Regions from separate parts of the Homo sapiens genome. Here region 2 is linked to region 1. Evidence: fine-mapped expression QTL. A gene starts in region 1. The other region holds a variant in brackets. All regions are shown on one strand. Distances are from middle to middle. Region 1 holds the start of PPM1G (protein phosphatase, Mg2+/Mn2+ dependent 1G). Region 2 overlaps GCKR (glucokinase regulator).

The links. PIP is the estimated chance that this variant, and not a neighbour inherited with it, causes the effect.
Region 2: its variant is fine-mapped to the expression of PPM1G in whole blood (TOPMed, PIP 0.95).

The regions. Positions count from the first base shown.
Region 1 is chr2:27,403,213-27,414,383 of GRCh38, reverse strand. PPM1G (protein phosphatase, Mg2+/Mn2+ dependent 1G) reads left to right here and starts at 4,793. Exons shown (of 10, transcript NM_177983.3): 1 at 4,793-5,081. The coding sequence starts at 4,962. RefSeq lists silencers at 4,623-4,812, 4,903-5,092, 5,163-5,212, 5,233-5,312.
Region 2 is chr2:27,507,685-27,518,855 of GRCh38, reverse strand. It overlaps GCKR (glucokinase regulator), which reads right to left. Exons shown (of 19, transcript NM_001486.4): 14 at 11,079-11,171; 15 at 10,782-10,879; 16 at 10,605-10,688; 17 at 1-68. Among named protein-coding and RNA genes, the nearest start is that of GCKR, 16 kb to the right of the region's middle. The variant T/C (reference allele first, on the strand shown) is at 4,542.

The DNA of each region.
Region 1 (11,171 bases):
GATCTATAATTACATGCCTCAGGGTTCATAATTTCTTTTTTTTTTTTTTTTTTGAGACGGAGTTTTGCACTGTCACCCAGACTGGAGTGCAGTGGCGCAATCTCGGCTCACTGCAACTTCTGCCTCCCAGATTCAAGTGATTCTCCTGCCTCAGCCTCCCAAGTAGCTGGAATTACAGGCATGTTGCCACCATACCCTGCTAATTTTGTAGTTCTAGTAGAGACAGGGTTTCTTTTTTTTTTCTGAGACAAAGTCTCGCTCTGTTGCCCAGGCTGGAGTGCCATGGCACGATCTCAGCTCACTGCAACCACTGCCTCCTGGGTTGAAGCGATTCTCCTGCCCCAACCTCCCAAGTAGCTGGGATTACAGGTGTGTGTCACCACGCCCAGCTGATTTTTGTATTTTTAGTAGAGACGGGGTTTCACCACGTTGGTCAGGCTGATCTCGAACTCCTGACCTCGTGATCTGCCCGCCTCAGCCTCCCAAAGTGCCGGGATTACAGGCGTGAACCACCGTGCCCGGCCAGACGGGGTTTCACCATACTGGTCAAGCTGGTCTTGAACTCTTGACCTCAGGTGATCCACCCACCTCAGTCTCTCAAAGTGCTGGGATTACATGTGTGAGCCACCATGCCTGCCATAAAAACCCTTTTTTCATGTGGACTAACACCTCAAGTACATGTTCAGGAGCTGGCTCTATTACCATGTCTGATTAGCCAGATTTTTGCAGCTCATACTTTAAAGACAGACTCAGCATTATCAATCGATCTATGAATATAGTATTGCGTTTTGGGTGTTTTTTTTTTTTTTTTTTTTTTTTTTAGACAGAGTCTTGCTCTGTCACCCAGGCTGGAGTACAGTGGCGCGATCTCGGCTCACTGCAAGCTCCGCCTCCTGGGTTCATGCCATTCTCCTGCCTCAGCCTCCCGAATAGCTGGGACTACAGGCGCCCACCATCACGCCCGGCTAATTTTTTGTATTTTTTAGTAGAGACAGGGCTTCACCATGTTAGCCAGGATGGTCTCGATCTCCTGACCTCGTGATCCACCCGCCTCGGCCTCCCAAAGTGCTGGGATTACAGGCGTGAGCCACTGCGCCCGGCCTTTTTTTAAAATTTTTTTTCTTTCTCCCTTCTAGTCAAAGCATGAAACCTTTACGTCACTGGAAATATACTGTAGTGACTTTGAGGGGAATAGGATGGTGAGGGGATAATCTTCATACTCTTTCTCCTTTTTCACCTCTTTCCATGATCCCCCTTAGTATCTATCTCCCCTCTCTGTAACATTATTGCTCTCCCAGTGCGTTACTTTTTCCTTGAGTCATATTGTGTGTGTGCGTGTGTGTGTTTATATAGTATTTTTAGTAGAGAGAGGGTTTCACCATGTTGGCCAGGCTGGTCTCGGACTATTGACCTTAAGTGATCCGCCTGCCTCAGCCTCCCAAAGTGCTGGGATTACGGGCGTGAGCCACTGTGCCCAGCCTCGAGTTATATTTTCTTTTCCACTTTTTTTCTTGTCTGTTTTTTTCCCATTTATTTTCAGGCCACCTCCTATTTTTTGTGAACACAATTAAATGTGGCTTCCATTCCATATTTAGCGTGTATGTATGGACACTTAAACAGCAGTCTTTTGTTGAATAATATACAACATTTATGGATAACTCAGCACTTTACATTCAATTCCTCTTATCCTTAAAGCAGTCTTGAAGAGTAGATGCTGTATGTCTGTCTTGCAGATGAACTTAGCCTAAGAGGGAATAAGTAACTTGTGAAAGATCTCATAGGTAATATGTGGCAAAATTCATGCTCTTTAAACAATGTCACATTCCATTCTTAGGAAAAAACAAAGTCCAAAAAGAAAAAAAAAAAGAAAGAAAAAAAAGAAGGCGGGCATAGTGGCACATGTCTGTGGTCCTGGCTATTTGGGAGGCTAAAGTGGAAGGATTGCTTGAGCCCAGAAGTTCAAGACCAGCCTCAGCAACATAGCAAGACCTCATTTCTTAGAAGAAGGAGGAAGAGGAGGAGCAGAAGGAGAAGAAAGAAGAGGCTGAGTAATTTTTGTTGTTGCTGTTTTGTTCATTTGTTTGTTTTTTGAGACAGGGTCTCACTCTGTCGCCCAGGCTGGAGTGCAGTGACACCATCTCAGCTCACTGCAACCAAGGCTGAGTAATTTTATATGCTCCCTCTACACTGCTTTGGTCAGAGATCTCATCTAGGTTCCTGGCAACCTGCAAGCCTAATTAACATCTTTTCCACTTTCATGGCTTAACTCCAATCTAATATTTTCAATGTTTTTATATTAGTTGTCACCCTAAACTGAACCACTGTTTTCCCCCCAAAACTAGCATCCCCTCAAACTGCACCTTTTTCTGTTAATGGCTCCACCACATTTTGTTATGCAGAGTCAAAATCTTGGTGTTATTCATTCATTCAACAAATATTTAAATATTATTCAGCACATACAACTTTGCAAGGGATGCTGGAAAACACAATGGTAAGTTTAATGGAACTTCTGCCTTCATAAAGGCTTATATTCTATCAGGAAAGACAAACAAGTGTGGACCCAAACTAGTATAGTGATAGTAGAGATTTCCTGGAGAAAGTGATGGTCAAGAGGGGTGTGGAGAGGTGTGCTCCATGGGTAAAAGTGTAAGAGAAAGCATGGCTTTAGATGCACCCAAAGACATTGCTGAAGCAGAGTTGTAGGAGAAATGGAGAGTTAAAGAGAGGCATACGTGAATCTGGATGATTAGCATGAAGGGTCTTGTAAACTATAAGGAATTTGGACTATCGGAAGAGCATGAAGAAGCCATGATTAGTTTTATCTTTTTAAAGAATCTTTTTTTTTTTTTTGAGACGGAGTTGCTCTGTCACCCAGGGTGGAGTGCAGTGGCGCCATCTTGGTTCACTGCAACCTCCGCCTCTGGGGTTCAAGCTATTCGCCTGCCTTAGCCTCCCAAGTAGCTGGGATTACAGGAGCGCACCACTACGCCTGGCTAATTTTTGTATTTTTAGTAGAGACGGGTTTCACATGTTGGCCAGGCTGGTCTCGAACTTCTGGCCTCAAGTGATCCACCACCCCCCCTTGGCCTCCCAAAGTGCTGGGATTACAAGTGTGAGCCACTGTGCCCGGCTGAAAAGAATCAATTTTGTCATAGTTTGGAGAATTTCTCCTTTTCTCTCCATCCCTTGAATGCAATTTATTACCAAATCTGTCTTATTTGTTATTGTCTAATTTGTCCTTTCATCTGGATTCCCATTGCCACCCTGCGTGGTACCACCTTACTCCCAGCTCTTCTCATCTCCTGCTTAGAGTAAGAGCTCTCTAACTAGTAGCAGTGCCCCAGGCCAGGCGCGGTGGCTCACGCCTGTAATCCCAGCACTTTGGGAGGCTGAGGCGGGTAGATCACGAGGTCAGGAGTTCGAGACCAGCCTGGCCAACATGGTGAAACCCCGTCTCTACTAAAAATACAAAAATTAGCCAGGCGTGGAATCCTAGCTACTCGGGAGGCTGAGGCAGGAGAATCGCTTGAACCTGGGAGGCGGAGGTTGCAGTGAGCCAAGATAGCGCCACTGCACTGCAGCCTGGGCAACAAGAGCGAAACTCTGTCTTAAAAAAAAAACAATAGTAGGCGGGGTGCGGTGGCTCACGCCTGTAATCCCAACACTTTGGGAGGCCGAGGCGGGCGGATCACGAGGTCAGGAGATGGAGACCATCCTGGCTAACACGGTGAAACCTCGTCTCTACTAAAAATACAAAAAATTAGCCAGGCGTGGTGGCGGGCGCCTGTAGTCCCAGCTACTCGGGAGGCTGAGGCAGGAGAATGGCGTGAACCCGGGAGGCGGAGCTTGTAGCCTGGGCGACAGAGCGAGACTCTGTCTCAAAAACAAACAAAAAACAACAACACAACAGTGCCCCAGACTCTCTCCCTCCAATGTACACTGCATACAAAGACTAGACAAACGATGCCAAAGGTTACACCAGGACGACAATGAAGTCCAAGTCACTCATCTTGGCGCTTCTTTTTATCAAGCTAGCTAGTTAATATTACCACTTACAATCATTCTCCGAGTCCAGCCAGCTTCCTCAGAAATCCTCCCCAAATGCAGTTCACATTCTTCCCTCACTCCTCCAAACCTTATAACATTATTCCCTTTTCCTGTGGCATAATGCAATCCAGAGGCATCCTCTCTGAGAGCCTACATCCTTTCAATCCTCCAAGAAACAGCTCCTCCTCCCATCCTTGAGCTTTTCCCACCCAGAATAGGCTGTACCAAACATTTCTACATTGTATTAACTCGAATTATATCACAGATCGAGGTCTTCGCTTTCAGAAAAGACTCACATTCTTCTCATATAGGCCTCGCATGGCCTGGCCAAGTACTTCCTAAGCTCGGAACAAATACTGGTCAACTTTAATTGAACCAAATCGGGCGGGGTTTGCGGAGTCTGAGAGTGCAACGTTGGGGAGAGGGGGATGAAAACACTGGAGGACGGGCTGAAAGCGTCGAGTCCGACACAAAAGAGGCGTCAGACAAAACGCCAAGAGGCTGGGGACTGGGAACGAAGGAAGAGGTTCTGCCAGAGGCGACCTGCCACCTGCGCGAGGAAGCGGAGTAGGACGGCGGCCGTTGGTGGGCGTGGTCGCGCTAGTCTCGCGGGAGCGGCCGTTGGGCGGGCCGTTGTCCCTGCGGGCGGGGCGAGTTGCTAAGGAAATGACTGCCCGCAGCGCCTGGCCCCGCCGCGCAGGCCGGGCGGGGTCTGGAGCGGCGCCGTTTCCGCTTCCGCTCCCTCACAGCTCCCGTCCCGTTACCGCCTCCTGGCCGGCCTCGCGCCTTTCACCGGCACCTTGCGTCGGTCGCGCCGCGGGGCCTGCTCCTGCCGCGCGCACCCCCGGGGCTTCGGCTCCGGCACGGGTCGCGCCCAGCTTTCCTGCACCTGAGGCCGCCGGCCAGCCGCCGCCATGGGTGCCTACCTCTCCCAGCCCAACACGGTGAAGTGCTCCGGGGACGGGGTCGGCGCCCCGCGCCTGCCGCTGCCCTACGGCTTCTCCGCCATGCAAGGCTGGCGCGTCTCCATGGAGGTGAGGAGGCAGGGGCCCATAGGCTGGCCGCTGCGGGGCGGGAATCTGACGGAGAAAGAGAGCGGGGGATGGGGTCCTCCCCTGGGAAGGGTCCCAATTGGGAGCCTGCGGCCGCAGCGGCCGTTTGCGGGGCGACAGAGACCGCGGGGTCAGGGCCGAGAGGGAGCTCCCGATGCTTGGGGACCGTGTGCCGGTGGCCAGTGGCGGCGAGGGCTCGGCCATGTGGGAAGAGGCACCTTCCGCCCACTGACCGCCCTCTCCCCGAGCTTTGGCGCCATCCTCTCGTGCCAACCTAGCCCTCCAGGCTCATCAACGGTGTGAGGTTTAGTGTGGGAGTAAAGACGCAAATAGGGGCTATTTATTCATTTGTTTTTCAAGGGAGAGGTGAATAGATGTGAATAACTTTTTAAATTTTAATATTTAAAATATCTGATGTGGGAAGCCTCTTTTGGCTAGGAGTTTGACAGTGAAAGGAACCCCGGGCAGAGTCTGTTTCACATTTTGGTTGCCTGGCCTTGGGCTCTTGCATGTTAATTTCAGAGGCTGGACCCGACCTCCAGGAGTTGTCACTCATTTGCACTCTTTTCAGGGCCTTTTACTAACTTCGGAAAACTTGAATTATGTCAGTCCCTAGGTTTTCCTTTTTATTATGCTTCGTTTTCTTTCTCTCTTAGGATTTCTCTAAAACTTAATCAGTAATTCTCATTTGCCTGTAATTGTAGTTTATAGTTTCTTTGATTGTAAGTCATTTCATCAATTTTTTTCATCACAACCTACCTACAAAGGGCTTTTCTAGAAAATTTTACTCTGGACAAAAGGGGAAAAGAAAAATATTGGGGGGAAAGTAGTAGTATTAGGTAAAACTTGATGTGAAACTACAAAAGAGAAGAGGGAAAACTGCGGTAGGGAGGAAAGGGAGGAAGACGGGTTAACCGTGGCTTTGTGAAGAGCATTCTGAAGTCTAGGCAAAAGGGCCAGGGAAATACTCTGTCTGGTATTGAGGGTTTCTCCACCTACCGGGTGGGCTTCAGGTAACAGCGAAATACTGTCTCCCTTGGGAATTGTTTCAGATCCCTCGCTCCTCCCTGTGGTTAGCTCTGGAATGACAGTATGAACTTAAATGTTTTGTTTTCCGATTCAAATTTTATATTCATAACTGACCTTAATAACAATTTTATAATTAGGTATAAAATTTCAGGATTGGAGTGTATCCTATAGTTCATCTCATCTGCTTTGGCTCCCTTTTTTTTTTTTTGAGACAGAATTTCGCTCTTGTTGCCCAGGCTGGAATGCAATGGCGCGATCTCGGCTCACCGCAACCTCCGCCTCCCAGGTTCGAGCAATTCTCCTGCCTCAGCCTCCCTAGTAGTTGGGATTACAGGCATGTGCCACCACGCCTGGCTTATTTTGTATTTTTAGTAGAGACAGGGTTTCTTCATGTGGGTCAGGCTGGTGTTGAACTCCTGACTTAGGTGATCTGCCTGCCTCGGTCTCCCAAAGTGCTAGGATTACAGGCATGAACCACCACACCCTGCGGCTCCCACATTTTATAGCTAAGAAATTGAGGCCCAGAAAGGTTAGGACACTGTTTTGGTGGAAAGAATTTGTAGGATCAGATCGTTGAAGACACTAGACATTGTTAATCATCTATGTCAAACTGAAGCATAGCATTCATATTTCACCACCATACACAGTATAACTATTTGGTAGATGTAATTGTCTATTAGAAATATCTAGGCTGGGCGCAGTGGCTCACGTCTGTAATCCCAGCATTTTGGGAGGCCGAGGCAGGCAGATCACCTGAGCTCAGGAGTTCGAGACCAGCCTGGGCAACATGGCAAAAACCCTGTCTCTACAAAAAATACAAAAAAATTAGCTGGGCATGGTGGCACCCACCTGTAGTCCCAGTTACTTGGGAGGCTGAGATAGAAAATCACTTTGAGCCTGAGAGGCAGAGCCTTCATTGAGCCAAGATCGCCCCTCTGCACTCCAATCTGGGTGACAGAGCGAGACGCTGTCTCAAAAAATAAATGAATAGGCCAGGCATGGTGGCTCATGCCTGTAATCCTAACACTTTGGGAGGCTGCGGCGGGCGGATTGCCTGAGCTTAGGAGTTCGAGACCAGCCTGGACAACATGAAGAAACCCCGTCTTTATTAAAATACAAAAAATTAGCTGAATGTGGTGGTGCGTGCCTATAATCATAGCTACTTGGAAGGCTGAGGCAGGAGAATCGCTTGAATCCCAGAGGCGGAGGTTGCAGTGAGCCAAGATCGTGCCACTGTACTCCAGCCTGGGCGACAGAGTGAGACACTGTCTCAAAAAAAAAAAAAAAAAGAATAAATAAATAAATCTGGGTATAGTTTCGTAGGAAAGTCTTTTTGTAAAGTAGGTAGTCAAGAAGTTCCATTTCCATGGCATTTTCTGTTAACGTTGTGAGATTTGAGGTGAATATTCCATCTCGCAGTAAAACGTTTCTTCCAGGTTTCTCATTTAATATTTTTCACTTCTCTGCTGTTGTTTTTTCATTTCTTTGGTACCCTTCTTTCTACTTTTACTTACGGATTGAGTTGCTTGGCTACTCAGTGTTTCACGTTGGTTTGCCCAGTGATTCCATACTATTTGCTGCTTCTCTGTAGGGCATTTCCCTTTATTTTTGGTTTCTCCTCAATTAGAAAATGATTTTTTTTGTCAGGGACGGTTTAGTGTGTAGAGATCTTACTAGACTATTCCTTACATCCTAATCTTCCTCCTGAGAGATAACTGCTTAGGGTATTAAAATCTTGCTAATGTGCTGTTTCTGAAGTTGCCCTTGTTTGAATAAATATGCCTAATCAATAGTTAAATATGCCTAATCAAATCCTCTTGAAGAGTATTGTTTGGGATCCTATTCTGCTTCATTGATAGTGTTCCTTCTGGCTTTTTTTCTCTTCAAAGTGTAGCATAGTTTCTTTGCTATTGCAAGAAAATAACTATGAGTTCTAGCCTCTTCCCTGAATCTTATCTTTCCAGAAAATATAAAGTACTCCCATTCCTCTGAAGCTTTAGGGCTTAATCCAAAAATTAATAAAGTTTATTTACCCTATTTGCTTGGTCCTAATGCTTCATTTGAGGTAAGGTTATCATACCACTAAAGGTTGTTGACATGCTGACTGATGGATAGATTTAGCCGTAGAGAGGACTCTTGAGACAAAAATGGCAATCATCAATAGCTGGCATTTTTACTTTCTGCCTGTTTCAAGCTTCTCTTCCTGTGTGACCAGGGTGTTGTTGTTGTTTGTTTTGTTTTGTTTTGTTTTTGAGACGGAGTTTCTATCTTGTTGCCCAGGCTGGAGTACAATGGCATGATCTCGGCTCACTGCAACCTCCGCCTCCCGGGTTCAAGCGATTCTCCTGCCTCAGCCTCCTGAGTAGCTGGGATTACAGGCATGTGCCACCACGCCTGGCTAATTTTGTATTTTTAGTAGAGATGGGGGTCTCTCCATGTTGGTCAGGCTGGTCTCGAACTTCTGACCTCAGGTGATCGGCCCGCCTCTGCCTCCCAAAATGCTGTGAGCCACCATGCCCAGCAACCAGGGTGTTTTGAGAAAAGGTAATCAAAATACCACAGGCCAGTCGTGGTGGCTTAACGCCTGTAATCCCAGCAGTTTGGGAGGCCGAGGGGGGCAGATCACCTGAGGTCAGTTCGAGACCAGCCTAGTCAACATGGTGAAACCCCGTCTCTACTGAAAATACAAAAATTAGCCAGAGGCCAGAGAATTGCTTGAATAGGAAGGCCAGTGAGCCGAGATCTCACCGCTGCACTCTAGCCAGGGTGACAGACTCCGTCTCAAAAAAACAAACAAAAAAACCACCACAGTTGATGTTCTCCTCCTTCCTCCTTTCTCCATGAAAAAAGTGGATGAGGTATGTACTTTGGGATTAAGAGGTAGGCACTGGGCACGGTGGCTCATGCCTGTAATCCCAGCACTTTGGGAGGCCGAGGTGGGCGGATCACGAGATCAAGAGACCGAGATCATTCTGGCCAATATGGTGAAACCCTGTCTCTTCTAAAATACAAGAATTAGCTGGGCATGGTGGCGCACGCCTGTAGTCCCAGCTACTCCGGAGGCTGAGGCAGGAGAATCGCTTGAACCTGGGAGGCGGAGGTTGCAGTGAGCCGAGATCGCACCACTGCACTCCAGCCTGGGCGACAGGGTGAGACTCCATCTTAAAAAAAAAAAAAAAAAAATGAGGTAGGTTGTGGAGGGGTGCCTGAAAAATTATAAGGTAAGGCCCTTGAGTTTTTGTTGGCTAAATAAGAAGTCAAATCTGAAAATAGATTCAGTTGATGTAGTCTTTTTTTTTTTTTTTTTTCTCCGAGACGGAGTCTTGCACTGTTGCCCAGGCTGGAGTATAATGGCATGATCTTGGCTCACTGCAACCTCTGCCTCCTGAGTTCAAGCGATTCTCCTGCCTCAGCTTCCCGAGTAGCTGGGATTACAGGCGCCTGCCACCATGCCCGGCTAATTTTTTGTATTTTCAATAGAGACAGGGTTTCACTATGTTGGCCGGGTTGGTCTCCAACTCCTGACCTCTTAATCCGCCCGCCTCGGCCTCCCAAAGTGCTGGCATTACAGGCGTGAGCCACCATGCCTGGCCCATCAGTTGATGTAGTCTTAAGGGGACAAGAGTACATTTAATATTTGGTTGTGAGGTTCTCTGGAAGTGACAAAACTGCTTTCTATGGAGAGTTAGGAATTTTTTTTTTTTTTGAAACGGAGTCTCGCATTGTCACCCGGGCTGGAGTGTAGTGGCTTGATCTCGGCTCACTGAAACTTCCGCCTCTTGGGTTCAAGTGATTCTCCTGCCTCAGCCTTCCAAATAGCTGGGATTACAGGAGTCTGCCACCAGGCCAGCTAATTTTTTTTTGTATTTTTAGTGGAGACAGGATTTCACTATGTTGGCCAGGCTGGTCTCAAGACTCCTGACGTTGTGATCCACCTGCCTCGGCCTCCCAAAGTGCTGGGATTACAGATGTGAGCTACCGTGCCCGGCCAGGAATTTTTTGTGCTATAAATCATATTTTCCTTTTATTAAAGGCAGTGTCAATATCTATAGTATAATTTTGAGGAGGCTGGCTATTTATTGCTGTGTAGAAGCTGGCTTATTAGTGGTCAAGGGGTCATCTAGAATTGACTATAAAGATAGTATTGAGCAGAAAATTCTTAAAATACCTGCATATTTGTTTCAGTCATTAAATTAATGGAAAAAATATAAAAAGAAATATCACAAGTATGCTATGGGGTTCTACCTTAGGGCATTGAAGGTTGAAAAACATTTATTTTCTTATCTTCAGATTAGCATCTCATATCAATAGCCAATAGCTTAAAGCGCTTTTTACTTACTAAACCAGGTCAGAATTTCTCTCTCTCTCTCTTTTTTTTTTTTAGACAGAGTCTCTGTCACCCAGTCTAGAGTGCAGTGGTGTGATCTCGGCTCACTGGCCTTTCTGTTTAAGTGATTCTCCGGCCTCAGCCTCCTGAGTAGCTGGGATTACAGGCATGTGCCACGACACTTGGCTTATTTTTTGTATTTTTAGTAGAGATGGGGTTTCTCTGTGTTGGTCAGGCAGGTCTTGAACTCCTGACCTCAGGTGATCTGCCCGCCTCCGCCTCCCAAAGTGCTGGGATTACAGACGTGAGCTACTGCGCCTGGCCAGAATTTCTTTGTCTAGAATGTGGTTAGCAACTTTTATAAAAACGCATTATTTGCATTTGATTAGCATGCAGTACCCATTCACAGTTCAAAGCTAGTATAGAATTATATCACATGTATGCCCATGAGCATGGAGAAACTATTTTCTTTTTATTTTTTTAAGTTGGAGTTTTGCTCTTGTTGCCCAGGCTGGAGTGCAATGGTGCCATCTCGGCTCACTGCAGCTTCTGCCTCCTGGGTTCTAGCAATTTGCCTACCCCAGCCTCCCAAGTAGCTGGGATTACAGGCACTCGCCACCATGCCCAGCTAACTTTTTTGTATTTTTAGTAGAGAAGGGGTTTTCCCATGCTGGCGAGTCTGGTCTTGAACTTCTGGCCTCAAGTGATCTGCCCGC
Region 2 (11,171 bases), 100 kb before region 1:
AGAAGCACATGAGCACCTGTACTCACTGTATTCAGCACCCATTTGGTGCTTAGCTCACGCTGGAACTTCTGAAAAGGGCAGACACATGGGGGTGTCAAAAATTAGAGGACAGAAAAGCAGCAGAGTGAACAGGGCCCTGTTATCAGACAGGAAACCAACTGTCAAGAACCAGGGACCAAAATGCAAACATGATTTGTTTGAGCAGCCCAGCGTTTAAATGTTAGGGCAATAGATGTAAACCAGGATTGTCTCAGGCAAACCTGGTAGCTTCACCCATTTGTGTTTTTGACCCCTAGGTAGACAGACATGTTCTCTGAGTCCTTCCATATTAGAATTTTGATCCTGCTGAATTGTTCCTTTTTCTCCCCGGGTATCAGACAGGAGGAGTGGGATTCATTCCACTAAACCACAGGCTTCTTGAAAGGGCAGAGATGGTGACTTATTCTGCTCCAGGGCCCCAGTTTTTTAGACCATGACTGACACATATTTGCTGATCAATACATTTGTTGAGGCCGGGCACAGTGGCTCACTCCTGTAATCCCACCACTTTGGGAGGCCAAGGTTGGGGGATCACCTGAGGTCAGGAGTTCTCAACAAGCCTAGCCAACATGATGAAATGCTGTCTCTACTAAATACACAAAAATTAGCTAGGAGTGGTGGCATACACCTGTAATCCCAGCTACTCGGGGGGCTGAGGCACAAGAATCACTTGAACCCGGGAGGTGGAGGTTGCAGTGAGCCTAGATTGTGCCACTGCACTCCAGCCTGGGCAACAGAGTGAGACTATGTCTCAGGGGAAAAAAAAATGTTTGTTGAAAAATGAATTCTATTTAATTTTTCTAACAGCCCTACAGAATAAGTTTACCTATCCTCATTTCTACATATGAGGAAACTAGAGGTCAGAAGTAAATTAACTTGGAGAAGCTCATATGATAACGAGATGGAGAATGAGGACCTAAATCCCGGTCTTCTGATTCAATGATGAGGGCATTTCCTACTTTGCCACAAATATCTCCTGGATGAATGAGAGAACCTATGTAAAGGCATGTTGAAAACTAAAAAATTGTTCAAACATGTGGTATCGCGAGTATAAAACTGCCCCTTGTTTTTGGCCCTTATATCTTGTCCACCTTGGGGCACTTATAACACCTATTGGCACATTAGCAGGGAAACTGGGGCCCAGTAAAGGTGTTGAGGGGATTAATTAACTGGTGATATGGTTAGGCTTTGTGTCCTCACCCAAATCTCATCTTGAATTGTAATCCCCATAATCCCCATGTGTCAAGAGAGAGACCAGGTGGAGGTAATTGAATCATGGGGGGCAGGGGGCGTTCCCCCATGCTGTTCTTGGGATAGTGAGTTCTCATGAGATCTGATGGTTTTATAAGGGGGCTGTTCCCCCTTCACTTGGCACTTCTCCTTTCTGCCACCTTGGGAAGAAGATGCCTTACTTCCCCTTCACCTTCCACCATGATTGTAAGTTTCCTGAGGCCTCCCCAGCCATGCTGAACTGTGGGTCAATTAAACCTCTTTCCTTTATAAATCACCCAGTCTCGGGCAGTTCTTTAGAGCAGTATGAAAATGTACTGGCCAAGGTGGGCGGATCATGAGGTCAGGAGATTGAGACCATCCTGGCTAACATGGTGAAACCCCGTCTCTACTAAAAATACAAAAATTAGCCAGGCATGGTAGCAAGCACCTGTAAGTCAGAGCTACTTAGGAGGCTGAGGCAGGAGAATCACTTGAACCCAGGAGGCAGAGGTTGCAGTGAGCCTAGATCACGCCACTGCACTCCAGCCTGGCGACAGAATGAGACTCCATATTAAAAAAAAAAAAAAAAAAGGTACTAATACACGTGGTCCTAGCCAGGCTGAGGAAACAGGCTACTGCTACTTTTACCTCTTTATTCTGGAACTCTAGAAATAGCTGTTCACACAAAACCCTGGAAGAGGGTATATTGAAAACATTTTAATAAGTGAATGTCCACGACACTAAATATAAGAACAGCATGAAATTTCAGCATGAAACTGGCCAGTAAGTATGCAGTACTGATGCTATAGGGTGCGTGTCAGACTGCACTTTGGGAGAGAGGTCAATTAGATCTAGGTTATACCACTAACCATTGATACCATTAACATTAACACCATTAACACAAAAATATTTTAAATTTTACAAAATTTGGAGTGCGACACATTCATTTTAAAGTACACATGGAAAAATCGGCCTGGATATAGCCAGGAAAATCCTTAAAAAGAAGAATAGGCTGGGCACAGTGGCTCACGCCTATAATCCCAGCACTTTGGGAGGCTGAGGTGAGTGGATCACTTGAAGTCAGGAGTTTGAGACCAGCCTGGCCAACAGGGTGAAACCTGATCTCTACTAAAAATACAAAAGAAAATTTGCCTGGTGTAGTGGCGCGTGCCTGTAATCCCAGCTACTTGGGAGGCTGAGGCAAGAGAATCACTTGAACCTGGGGGGCGGAGGTTGCAGTGAGCCGAGATCATACCATTGAACTCCAACTTGGGCAACAGAATGAGACTCCATCTCAAAAAAAAAAAAAAAAAAAAAAAAACAAGAATGAAGAACAAACCCTATTGGATACCAAACATACCATAACGCCTCCATAATTAAAACATATGGTACCAGCACATCAATAGACAAACCAGTGGAACAGAATAGAAAGTCCATAAATAGACCAATGCACATAGAAATTGAGTATGTGACACAGATAGCATCCTAAATCACTCAGGAAAAGATGAACTTAAAAAAATTATATTGGAGCCAGGCACGGTGGCTCACCCCAGTAACCCCAGCTCTTTGGGAGGCTGGGACAGGAGGATTGCTTGAGGCCAGGGATTTGAGACCAGCGTGTGCAACATAGCAAGAACCTGTCTCTACAAAAAAAAAAAAAAAAATTTTGTTTAATTAGCCAGGCATGGTGGCATGTGCCTGTAGTCCCAGCTACTTGGGAGGCTGAGGTGGGATGATTGCTTCAGCCCAGGAGTTTGAGGTTGCAGTGAAATCTGATCACATCACTGCACACCAGCGTGGGTGACAGAGTGAGATTCTGTCTCAAAAAAAAAAAAAAAATATATATATATATATATATACGAACAATTGGATAATCACTTGGAAAAATAAATAATTGGATTCATGCCTTACCCCATACACAAGAATAAACTCCCAATAAATTAAAGATCTAAGTGTTTAAAAAAGAAAAAAAGAAACCATCTCTACTAGCAGAAAACATGGATGGAATTCCTTTACAATTTAGATGTTAGAAAAAGCTTTCTGGACCACGCCTATAATCCCAGTGCTTTGGGAGGCAGAGGCGAGTGGATCACTTGAGGTCAGGAGTTTAAGACCAGCCTGGCCAACATGGTGACACCCCTGGCCAACATGGTGAAACAAAATTAGCTAGGCATGGTGGCAAGCGCCTGTAGTCCCAGTCACTCGGGAGGCTGAGGTGGGATGATCACCAGAGCCCAGGAAGTTGAGGCTGCAGTGAGCCATGATCACACCACAGCACTCCAGCCTAGGTGACAGAATGAGACCCTGTCTCAAAAAAATAATAAAATAAGGCTGGGCGTGGTGGCTCACGCCTGTAATCAGCACTTTGGGAGGCCGACATGGGCAGATCACCTGAGGTCAGGAGTTCGAGACCAGCCTGGCCAACATGGTGAAACCCTGTCTCCACTATAAATGCAAAAATTAACTGTGCATGGTGCTGGGCACCTGTAATCCCAGCTACTTGGGAGGCTGAGGCAGAAGAATTGCTTGAACCTGGGAGGCAGAGGTTGCAGTGAGCTGAGATCACATCACTGCACTCCAGCCTGGGTGACAGAGCAAGACTCCATCTCAAAAAACAATAATAATAATAGTAATAAAATAATAATAAATAAATGAAAACTACACAGAAGTGGCATTTCTAATCTATCAGGTTGACAAAATCCAAAAACTTCACAAAACTCTCCAAGAGGCTGTAGGAGAGCAGCATTCTTGTATATTGCTGGTATGGAAAGCAAAATAGTAAACCCTATGGAAGGAAATTTTGCAATATCTAACAAAATGGCATATGTATGTACCGTTTGACCCAGCTCTAATACTTCTAGGAATTTATCCCAAAGATACTCTTCTGACATTATAAAAATACATGTACATTCATTACATCATGATTGATCATAGCAAAATATGGGAAACCTATATGTCCTACATAGGAGATTGCCTGAGTAAACTATTACATATGTGGAAACACACAAAGGTAAAAATTAATGAGGAAGAGCTCTATGATCCAATATGGAGTGATTTTCAGAATATCTTCTTAAAGCACAAAAGAGTATAGTAGACTGCCTTTTGTATAGGAAGTGCAAACTTATATGTACACACACACTTTTCTCCAAAAAGAAACATAGGAGGATAAGCCAGTAACTAATTAAACTAATTCCCTACAGGCATGAATGGAAATGGAATGAGACGGCAGATATATTGATGATGTTGGAAATCAACATTATCACTAAGGGAAAGAGGAAGAAGAGTGGGAA[T/C]ATATATACAGTATTTATATAGATGTATATATAGATGTATGTGTGTGTATATATATATATACGCAGACACATTCATCTGTATGTAAACAAACATACATATGTATATGTATGTATGCATGTATATATACATAAACACACACATACACACACCCTTATTCTTTCTACTGATAGGGCTTAGAGGCAAAGACACACCAGTAGCAGTGAACATACCTAGCATTTGGGTTTCTAAATACTAGAACCCACTAACAAGATCAGGTCTCCTCAGAAAAATGACTGACTCCAGGGCTGGATCAGGGAAAGTATAGGTGAGCCTGGGTCAGTGGTTTTGTGTTCCTGCATAGGAGATTGACAGGGCAAACTATTGTTACACACACACACACACACACACACACACACACACACACAAATGCAAATAATAAGTAATAATGAGGAAGAGATCTATAAACTGCACTGCAGTGATTTTCAGAATATCTTAAGCAAAAAATGCAAGATATAAAAAAGATGCTACCTTTTGCATAAGAAGGTTATTATTATTTTACAAAAAGAAACACAACAAAGAGTGTTCAAATACTGATGTGGATATGTCACAAGGACACAGGAACCAGCTTGAATGAACTCTCATTTTGAGCATTAAAATAAATAATGAATAATAAGAATGGATTAAAACACATTTAACAACAACAAAAAATTCATGAGTCCATATTGACACTAAAAAAACAAAGATAGATAGGGTAGATAGGACGGGGAGAGAAGAAAAAGATTTTCTTTCTTTCTTTTTTTTTTTTTTGTGACGGAGTCTCGCTCTATCACCCAGGCTGGAGTGCAATGGCACGATCTCAGCTCACTGCAACCTCTACCTCCTGGTTCAAACAATTCTCCGACTCAGCCTCCTGAGTATCTGGGACTACAGGTGCACACCACCACACCCGGCTAATTTTTGTATTTTAGTAGAGATGGGGTTTTGCTATGCTGGCCAGGCTGGTCTCAAACTGCTGGCCTCAAGTGATCCACCTGCCTCAGCCTCCCAAAGTGCTGGGATTACAGATGTGAGCCACCGCACCTGGATGAGAGAGATTTTCTTTACAGAAGAATGCCAACTACTGAATATAGATGGAAGGGATAGAAATAGAAAATCACCATTGAAAAACTACCATAGTAATAATTAATTCAACCAAGAATCATCAGTGGATGCTAAAACCATTGGGTGAAAGATTGCTGAGGAATAGGATACAGAGAAATCTAACAGACACCATCCTAGCTAAACGATGGAATGTAGCATCACCAATAAAGGGGCAAACTGACATCAGGTACCTCCCGATGTGATACACTGATAAGGGCACAACTTCCCCTATGCAGTACTCCTGCCAAAAAATTTAACCTGAATATCATGACGAAACAATCAGGCAAATCCAAAGTGAGGCATATTCTGGAAAACAACTGACCTGGACTTACTTCTAAGATATCAATGTCATCAAAGAGATAAAGAACAACTGAGAAACTCATCTGGAGTAAAGGAAAACCCAAAAGACCTGATAACTGAATGCAGTGCATTATCCTTGATTGGATCCTGGATCTGGGAAATAAAAACAATACAGGAATATTTGGGGAAATTTGAATATGGTCTAGATAATAGATAATAGTATATTAATTGTCATTTTCCTGAGTGGAAAAGTATATTGTAATTATGTAGGTGAATGCCCTTGTTCTTAGAGGACACATACCAAAGTAATTAGTATAACATATCAGGCATCTCCAATTATCTTCTTTTTTTTTTTTTTTTGAGATGGAGTCTCACTCTGTCACCCAGGCTGGAGTGCAGTGGCATGATCTCGGTTCACTGCAACCTCCACCTCCCAGGTTCAAGTGATCCTCCTGCCTCAGCCTCCCGAGTAGCTGGGACTATGAGCATGTGCCACCATGCCCGGCTAATTTTTGTATTTTTAGTAGAGATGGGTTTCACCATGTTGGCCAGGCTGGTCTTGAACTCTTGACCTTGTGATCCACCCACCTCAGCCTCCCAAAGTACTGGGATTGTAGGCGTGAGCCACCACGCCCGGCTTTTTTTTTTTTTTTTTTTTTGAGATGGAGTCTTGTGTCGCCCAGGCTGCAGTGCAGTGGTATGATCTCAGCTCACTGCAACCTCTGCCTCCCAGGTTCAAGCGATTCTTCTGCCTCAGCCTCCTGAGTAGTTGTGATTACAGGTCCAAGCCACCACGCCTGGCTAATTTTTGTATTTTTAGTAGAGATCAGGTTTCACCATGTTGATCAGGCTGGTCTCGAACTCCTGACCTTGTGATCTGCCTGCCTTGGCCTCCCAAAGTGCTGGGATTACAGGCATGAGCCACCGTACCTGGCTCCAATTATCTTTCATATAATTCAGGGGAAAAGAAAGAGATGAAGCAAATATGGCAAAATGTTAATAATTGATGAATCTAGGGAAAAGTATATGGGTGTTCCTTGCACCATTTTCGTATTTTTCTGTAGGTTTGATTTTTATCAAAATAAAAGTGTATCCACTGTCACTTCGGAAGGCAAAAAAGAAAACAAAACAAAACAAAATAAAAGTGTAGGAACAGTTTACATAGAAAATATTTCTTTTTTTTATTTTTAATTTTTATTATTATTTTTTTTTGAGACAGAGTTTCACTCTTGTTGCCCTGGCTGGAGTGCAATGGTGCGTTCTCAGCTTACTGCAACCTCGGCTTCTCCTGCCTCAGCCTCCCGACTAGCTGGGATTACAGGCACCCACTACCATGCTCAGGTAATTTTTTTGTATTTTTAGTAGAGACAGGGTTTCACCATGTTGGCCAGGGTGGTCTCGAACTCTTGACCTCAGGTGACCTGCCCGCCTTGGCATCCCAAAGTGCTGGGATTACAGGCGTGAGCCACGGCGTCTGTCAAAAATATTTCTATAGCTAAAGATTGACCAGCCCAAACAAAGCCTCTTTATTTCAAACAATTCCAATTCATTTAGAAAGATAAAACCAGGCTGAGTGCAGTGGCTCACTCCTGTAATCCCAGCACTTCGAGAGGCCAAGGCAGGTGTATTACCTGAGGTCCGAAGTTCGAGACCAGCCCGGCCAACATGGTGAAACCCTGTCTCTACAAAAAATGAAAAAAGTAGCAGGGCATAGAGGCGTGTGCCTGTAATCCCAGCTACTCAGGAGGCTGAGGCAGGAGAATCGCTCGAACCCGGGAGGCAGAGGTTGCAATGAGCCAAGATCACACCACTGTACTCCAGCCTGGGCCACAGAGCGAGACTCTGTCTCACAAATAAATAAACAAATAAATAAAACCAACATCAACCAAAAGGCAAAAAACACAAAGGAAAAGATTGATAGATTTGACTATGTAACATTTTAAATAAAATGTCTCTACATAAAAAACGTAAAAACAAAAGAAAATATTAAGCTGGGAAAAATATAGAAAAGAAAAAAAGGGCTACTGTTTTTGCTATACACACCCCTTCTTACAAATAAGAAAAAAAAATACCCCCCAAAGAAAGAATGGGTAAATAGACCCAAAAGACAAGAAGCAGTACATGAAAGACAAAAAAAAAGTATCAAATGGCCAATATATATTTTTAAGTAGTCCACCTACACAATAATTAAAGAAATATAAATTAAAATAACACTAAAATGCCCTTTTGTTGCTTTACTGATTAGCAAAGATTTTTTTATAAGGATGCTATCCAGTATGTATAAGGGTGTAAGGGAACAAGCAACTTCACGCTTTATTTATAAACCTCTTTGGAGGGCAGTTTGGCTGTATGTATCAAAAAGCTTCAAAATTTTACATCCCCTTTGACCCAGTGATTTCGCTTTTGGGGTTTATCCTGGTGAAACAAGTCAAATGCCTAAAAGATGTGTTTATAAGGATGTTCAGTGCAGCACTTTAATAAAAACCATAATATTGAAGTTGTCTCTGTGTCTGATAATCGGAGTTAAACAATTTATGGTACATCTATACAGTGGAATATTACATTGACACTAAAAATGATAGTAGTGGCCGGGCGTGGTGGCTCACGCCTGTAATCGCAGCACTTTGGGAGGCTGAGGCGGGTGGATCACAAGTTCAGAAGATCGAGACCATCCTGGCTAACACGGTGAAACCCCGTCTCTACTAAAAAATACAAAAAATTAGCCAGGCGTGGTGGCGGGCACCTGTAGTCCCAGCTGCTCAGGAGGCTGAGGCAGGAGAATGGCGTGAACCTGGGAGACAGAGCTTGCAGTGAGCGGAGATCGCGCCACTGCACTCCAGTCTGGGTGACAGAGCGAGACTCCATCTTAAAAAAAAAAAAAATGATAGTAGTGATCTATCAGATGAGAACATGTCCCGGCATGATAAAAATAAATAATAATAATAATAATTTTTGAAAATGATGGTGATCTATTAGTACAGAAAGATGTTCATAAAGCAACTTTAAAACAGCATATCAAGTATGGTCTTACTTTTGTACAAATATATTTATATATGCATATAATAGAAATTTAAAAGGACATTCTCCAAAATTTGTTAGAGTGTTTTTTTTTTTTTTTTGAAGATGGTAGATTTGGAGTGATTTTTTCTTTTTTGCATTTCTGTAATTTGTAACGTCTTTACTATAAAAAATGTATCTATAAAAAATGTATGGCTGTTAAAATGAACATTTTTCTTTAAAAATACAGTGTTTTGGCTAGGCGTAGTGGCTCACGCCTGCAATCTCAGCACTTTGGGAGGCTAAGGCGGGTGGATCACTTGAGTCTAGGAGTTGGCAAACAGCCTGGGCAATGTGGAGAAACCCGATCTCTACAAAAAAAATACAAAAATTAGCCAGTCATGGTGGTGAGTGCCTGTGGTCCTACCTACTTGAGAAGCTGAGGTGGGAGGATCAGTTGAGCAGGGGAGGCGGAGGTTGCAGTGAGCTGAGATGGCACCACTGCACTTTAGTCTGGGCCACAGAGTGAGACTTTGTCTTTAAAAAATAAAAAGAATGAAAGACATTGGAAGGAGAGTGGATTCCCTGTTCAGGGGCAGAGAAACTTCCGCTTCTATACGAGTTCTGAGTCCAGGTAAGTCAGTGTTTCAGCTGTGTCTGGTCAAGCCAGGAAACTTCTGACAGACATGGTTTGAATAACGAATAAGAGACCACATCTCTCCAGAGCAACCCTTCAGGGCCCTGATTCTGCCCATGGAGGGTGGGCAGGTGGTGTATGAGAAAACTGAGAACCAGAGATGTAAAATTGCTTGCTTTCTTGGGCCACACTGTAGAGCTAGACCGGCATCCAGAGCTCCCAATGCCCACACAAAGCTCTAAATTGCAAAGAGCACACACACTGATTATTATTTCTGTAATTATTATCAGTATTTGTGCTGGATTATAATTCATTGGCAAGCAGGGACTATATGCACATAAAGTTATCTGCAATGAATTCAGCATAGTAAACTTGCAAAAAAAAAAAAGGTGTGGTAAAAGCTTTTGGATAATGATGATGACTTTGGTATCAAGAATTAACCTGTCCCAGCCAGGCGCAGCGGCTTACACCTGTAATCCCAGTACTTTGGGAGGTCGAGGCAGGCAGATCACTTGAGGTCAGGAGTTCGAGACCAGCCTGGCCAACATGAGGAAACCCTATCTCTACTAAAAATACAAACAGTAGCCGGGCATGGTGGTGCACACCTGTAGTCCCAGCTACTTGAGGCACGAGAATCACTTGAACCCAAGAGGCAGAGGTTGCAGTGAGCCAAGATTGCACCACTGCACTCCAGCCTGGGCGACAGAGTGAGACTCTGTCTCAAAGTAAAAATAATTAACCTGTCCCAAAGGACAAATGAACATCTGTCAGGTGACTGGAGGCCTATCCCGCAACTTTTTGCATATTCCTAGAGACAGCTGAGCCCAGTAGTTCATTGCCTTGGGAATTCTGACTAGTAACCTGGTAACCCATGACCTTGCCCAGCTGGCTTTGTGAGGGTCAGAGAGGTCTCCAAACTTTCTGCCCTACAGCCTTGGGTTTTTTGATTCTTGGAATCCCTCACCCTCTGAGCCCCTTACTGCAGATAGGACCTTCTCATTCCCCATACCTGGATGAAGTTCCCTTCATATTCAAAGAAAAGCAGTGGCCATGTGATGCTGATGATGGAGGGAAAGAGCTTCTTCAGAGGGATCTGGAGAGAGAGAAAGAGGAGCAGGAGAGGCATCTCCAGGAAGGCCTGGCTGCAACTGCCACCTGGGTCCCTTTGTCACGGCTGGACTCTCACCAGCAAGGTCTGACCCACGGTGCTGTGTGCCAGGGCCTGGATGTGGTTGGTCTTCTCTTTCACCTGCTCCACTATAGTCTGCACCTCCGTGAGGTTGTCTAGGAGAAGGGGAGGGCATCAGAGTCGAAAGGCTGGCTGTGCAGCTGTTCCTCCTGCTCCCCTGGCTGGGGTCCAGTCAGGATATTCACCCCGTCCCTCCCTCTGAGCAGGTACCCTAAGACCCAGAAAAACAACAGCTCCTCTGAACCATTCTATTTCCCCCTCCCCACCCCTCACCACTCCCATCTTCCCTCTCACCATCCAGGGTGAAAATGAAGACCACAGTATCGATTTCCGTGAGAGAGGGAAGGATGGAAGTCAGGAAGTCCTCCTGGGAGAAGGTGAACTGGG